Homo sapiens: one gene and its partner. The protein of the gene in region 1 purifies or fractionates together with the protein of each later gene. This does not show direct contact. Each region holds a gene or a part of one and is shown in the gene's direction. Other genes may lie near its edges.

Region 1 (3,500 bases):
ACATATTTGAGGGCTCAAGCATTTTTCAGGGCCCAGCTCTGTTGCGTGCAAAATGGATCAGTATGTTGCTTTCAAGGTGGAACATCTATTGTAGCTGCCTAAACCACATAATTTGAGGGGCACAGATGCCCCTCTTCACCCCAAATATCTTGCTTAGAGTTGCGGTGCATTTAGACTGTGCTTTTAAGGCATTATCTCCACAAAGCTGGTGTAGAAATACAGATACGTGACCTTACCTCAGTATTTTTTCATTATCACAGTAACATGGATGAACTTGCCAGATGAACAGGAATTCAGCAGAGGGTCGAGGGATGAGAAATCTTAAAAATTTAATTTGTATTTTTGGTGTGGAGAAATGGAAACGGTCTAGAATGTAGGGCAGTTGTCTGAAAAGGTCTAGAGGGACCAAATAGCTGGGAGAAGTTTGCCCCAAATGGTTAAGGTGGGTGCCAAGGTGCCACCTTCTCTGACCTCACAGTTCCCCAGCTCAGCTCTGATCCCCAGGGACCAATGAGGTGCCAAAGGGTAAGGGCTCTTTGGAAGGAATTAACGAGGCTGGGAGAAAAATAGAGAAATGATGGGGGCCCCTTACAAGAGAACTTACGAGTATAAGAAGAAGGCAGTGGGGACTCAAAACTGATCAAGTCATTTGGTTTATATGCAAGTGCCCTCAGGGCCACTGAGGCACCTGGCAGAAATGCCCATGCCCAGTGCTTTTTTTTTTTCCTGAGACGGAATCTCGCTCTGTTGTCCAGGCTGGAGTGCAGTGGCACAATCTCGGCTCACTGCAACCTCCACCTCCCAGTTTCAAGTGATTCTCCTGCTTTAGCCTCCCAGGTAGCTGGGATTACCGGTGCCCGCCACCACACCTGGCTAACTTTTTTTTTGTATTTTTAGCAGAGACAAGGTTTCACCTTGTTGACCAGGCTGGTCTCAAACTCCTGACCTCAGGTGATCCACCCGCCTCGGCCTCCCAAAGTGCTGGGATTACAGGCATGAGCCACCGTGCCCAGCCCCAGTGCTTTATTTCAGCAAGAAACACTTACTAAATTCTTACTGTGTGTCAGACTCTATCTTAGAAGCTGGAAACATAACAATGACATGGACTCTGAACTCATAATTTCTAAACAAAGGAACATGCAGATAAATTTTTAGCTTGTGTTAATGCAACCTGGCATGTGAAAATACCTATGAAGGCTGGACACGTGTCATGCCTGTAGCTGGAACTCTTCAAGTTAATTGCCTTATTTTCCTGGCAGGAAACAGCTTATAACCACACACATGACTTGAGCCAGGAAGTCAGCTTCAGCTTAATCAATATTTAGAGTGTGATGTGTTGCTAATCAGTGTTGGTTTTGTGCATAGGAAAGGTAGCCACGACTCGTGGTGAATCAGCTGCCCACAGGTCTGCTACAAGCCACCGGATGCCAGCTTCCTTCATTGCATGGGTGCCTCAAAGCACCTTCTTGAAGGGTTTAGACCATGTTCTGCACAGGCCATGCAGGGTGATTTTGAGGCCCTCTTTGGGGCCAACACACCCTCATTAACTTAAGGAAACATTGCCCCACCCCGAAGTTTCTCTTCTCTTGTACTCCAGCTGTCATTCAAGCTTCTCCTACTTGTCAAACAATCCATCTCAGTCCTTAAAATTTGATCTCTTTGCCTAGCTTAACTTCATGTTATCCTCTGACTTAGATCTTTTCTGAAAGAAACAATAGCAAAATGTCAACACTCTCCACCAGGGAACCTTTTAGAAAAATACAGAATCAAGCCCCATCAACTACACACATATGAAATGATGCCCAGTTGAGCTATTCACCCCGTTTCTCCTATATGAGAACTCCTAACAAAGCATATCTTCTGTCACCTTTTGTTCTTCAAAACTCTATCTGGGATAATAGCTTGATAATTGGCCAGGCGCTGTAGGCTCATGCTGTAATCCCAGCACTTTGGAAGGCCGAGGTGGGTGGATCACCTGAGGTCAGAAGTTCGAGAGCAGCCTGGCCAACATGGTGAAACTCGGTCTCTACTAAAAATATAAAAATTACCCGGGTGTGGTGGCACGTGCCTGTAGTCCCAGGTACTCAGGAGGCTGAGGCACGAGAATCACTTGAACCTGGGAGGCAGAGGTTGCAGTGAGCTGAGATTGTGCCACTGCACTTGAGCCTGGGCGATAGAGGGAGACTCAGTCTCAAAAAAAAAGCTTGATAATTTAGAAAAGCAGTTCGCAAACTATAGGCCTGTGGGCCTGTCCAGTCAGCTGCCTGTTTTTGTAACCAAAGTTGTATGGGACCACGGCCACACCCATTCAGTTATGTGTTGTCCCTATGGCTGTTTCAAAGTGTCCCTGCAAAACCTAAAATATTTACCATCTGGCTATTTTTCTTTTCCCAAGAAAGTCAGCTGACCTCAAATTTAGAATAGCACTATCCAGTTGAAATACAATGTGAACCACAAATTTCAAGCCACATATATCATTTTAAATTCTCTAGTAGCTATGTTAAAAAAGTAAAGAGAGGCCGGGGGCAGTGGCTCACACCTGTAATCCTAGCACTTTGGGAGGCCGAGGCAGGTGGATCACCTGAGGTCAGGAGTTCGAGACCAGCCTGGCCAACATGGCAAAACCCTGTCTCTACTGAAAATACAAAAATTAGCTGGGCATGTTGGCACATGCCTGTGATCTCAGCTGCTCAGGAGGCTGAGGCAGGAGAATCGCTAGAACCCGGGAGGCGGAGGTTGCAATGAGCCGAGATTGCCCTATTGCACTCCAGCCTGGGCGACAGAGCGAGACTCCATCTCAAAAAAAAAAAAAAAAAAAAAAAAAGGTAAGAAGAGCAGGCATAATGAATATTAATGTATTTTATTTAACTCAGTGTATCCAAATATTGTCATGTCAACATACAATTAATATAAAATTTATTAATGAGATATTTTGCAGCCCTTTTTTTTATACAAAGGGTTTGAAATTCAATGAATATTTTACACTTACAGGACATCTCAAATCAGACCAGCCACATTACAAGTGCTTAATATGACTTGTGACTACCATGTTGGATAACATATGTCTAACACCTATATACCTTGGGGTAACTTTTACTGCACCTGAGACTTTGAAACAGGTGAAAATGAAATAATCTTCATATAAGTATATGGAGAGTTTTTTTGAAACAGAATTTGAAGGGACGGCTCTGTGGAGAGTACACGGTGAAATGTGTATATGCCTTCTTATTTTTATTTTTATTTTGGAGGGGACAGGGCCTTACTCTATTGCTCAGTCTGGAGTGCATTGGCACTATCATAGCTCACTGTAACCTTGAATTTTGAGGCTCAAGTGATCCTCCTGCCTTGGCCTCCCAAAGCACTGGGATTACCAGCATGAGCCACAACACCTGGCGTGTATGTATGTCCATTATCCACAATGTTATAAGCATGGACCATCAAACAAAACTGAAACCACACTCAGGGTGCTGCATTAATTAATGAAGAAAAGTGGACTGTTG
Region 2 (3,500 bases), on another chromosome or scaffold:
TGAGCTCACAATGGCACTCAGCCCCTTCAGTTGGCAGGTCAGGGCTTTTCTTAACTAGTGCTTAACTAGCGATTACAGCTCATAGTAAGAACAATATTTTATAATCTAACACACATACATGAAAGAAAAGGATGCGGATGTAGGAGGTGGAAGGGAAGAGGGCAGAAGGGGTCTTTGCTTTCCCCATGGGGGACCACATTCCCTTGATACGAGGTCTCAGAGTGAGTGACCAACCCAGCAGCCTCTTCCTTTAACCCCTCCTAGACATGCGTAGCCTAAGCAGGTGACCCCCAACCCCCGGGCACTTGGCCCATTGCCCTCTACCCATCTCTGCAGGTCCTATGTGGCAGGGGAGCCCCTAGGGGAGCTGGGGGACAGCAGGTTCTTTGAGCTTTCATTCTATCCTTGGACACAGTCCTCCTCTCAGATGCTTCCTTGTCCGGGGGGCTTTGCTCAACCCCTAGCTGCTGCCCCAGAGCATTCATCTCCTAGTGCAGCACAGCTGACAGCTGGGGTGGGTTGGCAGGGGAGCAGCCTGTGGGATACTCTTCGATCTGCTTTCAGAATGCATCTCCAGCAAGAACACCTTCAGCTGGAGCATCTCCAGCCCAGGCATCTCCAGCTGGGACACCTCCAGGCCGGGCATCTCCAGCCCAGGCATCTCCAGCCCAGGCATCTCCAGCTGGGACACCTCCGGGCCGGGCATCTCCAGCCCAGGCATCTCCAGCTGGTACACCTCCAGGCCGGGCATCTCCAGGCCGGGCATCTCCAGCCCAGGCATCTCCAGCCCAGGCATCTCCAGCCCGGGCATCTCCGGCTCTGGCATCACTTTCCAGGTCCTCATCCGGCAGGTCATCATCCGCCAGGTCAGCCTCGGTGACAACCTCCCCAACCAGAGTGTACCTTGTTAGAGCAACACCAGTGGGGGCTGTACCCATCCGATCATCTCCTGCCAGGTCAGCACCAGCAACCAGGGCCACCAGGGAGAGCCCAGGTAAGGGGGATGCTGTAGGGAAGCCACGAGAGATGGGAAGCAGCCCATGGGCAGGGAGGAAATCTCAGAGCCAGTGTGCTCTGCTCTCATAGCAGACAACGATGCGGGGAAGGGGAGGTAGGGGGGTGGGAAGTGAGGGACCTGAGGGTGGAGGCAAAAAGGAAACATTACATGAAAACCTGAGACAGTGGAAAATGAGGGGCAAAGGGGGTAGGTGATAAGAAGCCAGGACTAACAAAGCAGCTTGTCACCCTGGAGTCTGCACAACCCAGGTCAGAGCACCGGTTTCAATAGCAAGGTCTCCCAGTTAGTCACAGGGTTCTCTCCTTGTGCTGTCCTGTGGGTCTGCCTAAGAAGCTGGGGTCTGCAGTGGAGCAAGGTCATGATCAGTGGGCCCATCTGTGGGTGGGGGAGGAAAAGGAGAGATTCTGACCAGGTGTGCAAGTCCATCCCCAGCCTTCCAAATTGTGGGTTGTGTGGTTTAGCTACTAGGGAGTCAGAGAGGTTGAATAGGCCTTGGGGACTGGGTCTTCCCTTAAGGAATCAGTGTTCCTGCCCACTCCGATGCTGCCCTCCTCCCATCCCAGAATTCAGACTGTCCCCACCACCACAATACACACAGGCCTGGATGATACGTGGCTTTGGAGGATCACTCGAAGTTTGGGGCCCATCCCACAGCCTTGCCCTCTCCAGGGTGGGTGAAGTGCTTTGGTATCAGACCCACTGCACTGGAATCCCTACTCTGCCACTAACTCACCAAGTAACCCTGGGCAAGTGATTTCACTTCCACGAACCTCAGTTTCCCCATCTATAGAAAGGGGCCTAATAAGACTCTGCTCATGAGGTTGCTGTGAGAATTAACACAGGCAAAGTGCCTGGCTGGCCCAGAGGAGAGCACAGTAAAAGATCGCTGCTGGTGCCAGGCAGGGGGAGCTCAGTTTTTGCATTTTCAGATGGGACAAAATTCATTCATTCATTCAATTGACTTTGAGCCCCATAAAATCTCATTCCAACTTCTGGGGTGGAGTGGTCCTCACGGGGCCCTCCTGGGCCACAGTCTTGTTTCCCCCACCCTCTCCATCTCGTCGGACTCCTCTCCAGCCTCATATTCCCCTGCTGCCGCCCTGCTCCTAGGTACGAGCCTGCCCAAGTTCACCTGGCGGGAGGGCCAGAAGCAGCTACCGCTCATCGGGTGCGTGCTCCTCCTCATTGCCCTGGTGGTTTCGCTCATCATCCTCTGTGAGTTGAATGGAGGGTGCAGGGGTGGGTTCTGGGCACTGCTGGGCAGAGTGGGACCCAGGGATGGGGGCAGGCAGGGGAGACAGGTGTGGGGAGCACCCACTCACCCGGCTACTGTGTCCAGAGAGGGACACTCCTGCAAATGGCCTTGGACTGTGCTGCCCCCGGGGCCCCTGTGGGGTATCCAGGTTAACAGTGTGGAAGTCAGAGGAACCTGAGCTTGGCTCTCATCTGTGCCACTTACTATGCAGCTTACTTGGGCAAGTTAGTTAACCACCCTGAGCTCAGTTTCTGCATCTTCAGATGGGACAAAATTCATTCACCCATTTCATTACTATGTGTCCCGTAAGTTCTCATTCCAACTTCATTAGATTATGAGGAATAAATAAGACAACAGCACAATTCCTGGAACAAAATCTACAAATACTAGCTATTAAAAAAACACACATGAAAACACTGATTGGAAAAAGTCTGTCAAGGATATTCAGTCAATGGGATGACGTGTTCAGCATTCAGGGGTTCAGGCCCATTCTCTTCAGCAAAGATACCCAGGCATGCCCCAGGGCTCTCTGCTCAGAGGTCCACTATGAGCCCAGCACAGTGGGAAACTTTAGGCAGCGCAAATGTGCATGTACATTATTCTGTCCTGTCCTCAGAGAGATTACAGTCTCCTGGGGGAATAGCTGGAAATTTTGAAGGGCAAATGCATTTGAGTGTGACTATGAGGAGGGGATGACAGCTGTGTGGGTTGGATGCAGGGGATAGCTTCTTACAGCTGTGGGGCCAGATGAAGACCTGGAAGGTGGGACAGCAATTATGCCCAGCAGGGCATCTGAGCGAATGAGCAGCCACAGAAAATGTGGGAAACCAGGTGGCAAGGACAGCATGGGGGAGAGGAAGGGACCCGCCTAACCAAAGTGGAGAAGGAACTATCAGGGACCTGGGGCCGTCTGTTTGGTTCAGCAAGGCTGGGCCATGCTGTAGAGAGCTTTAAACCCCAGGCCAAAGAGTAAGGATTCTGTTAAAGAGGCAGCACCAGTGGTGAAGGGTGGAGTGGACCAGCGTGTGGAAACGTCTGCTGGCAGGGCTGCTGAAGGGGATTCTGAGGGAGGGGCAGTGTGCTGGCAGAGCAGGCTTTAGTGCCACACAGACCCTGGCTCTGCCACCGACAGGCTGTGTGAATTCGACAAGTCCATTAACATTCTGAGCCTCAGTTTCCCCACCAGTCTGACTGGGTGGGGTGGTCTTTGTCATAATGCACATAAAG

The links. Proteins that work in one complex are often made in the same cells at the same time.
Region 2: the proteins of SEL1L3 (region 1) and TMPRSS13 purify together in Homo sapiens (co-immunoprecipitation; one large-scale study listed by IntAct). This does not show direct contact.

The regions. Positions count from the first base shown.
Region 1 is NC_000004.12:25,852,989-25,856,488, reverse strand, and holds part of SEL1L3 (protein sel-1 homolog 3), read left to right. Parts: intron 1-3,500.
Region 2 is NC_000011.10:117,915,903-117,919,402, reverse strand, and holds part of TMPRSS13 (transmembrane protease serine 13), read left to right. Parts: intron 1-564; coding exon 565-994; intron 995-2,128; coding exon 2,129-2,233; intron 2,234-3,500. UniProt on the Homo sapiens protein: Serine protease. Cleaves the proform of PRSS8/prostasin to form the active protein. Cleaves the proform of HGF to form the active protein which promotes MAPK signaling.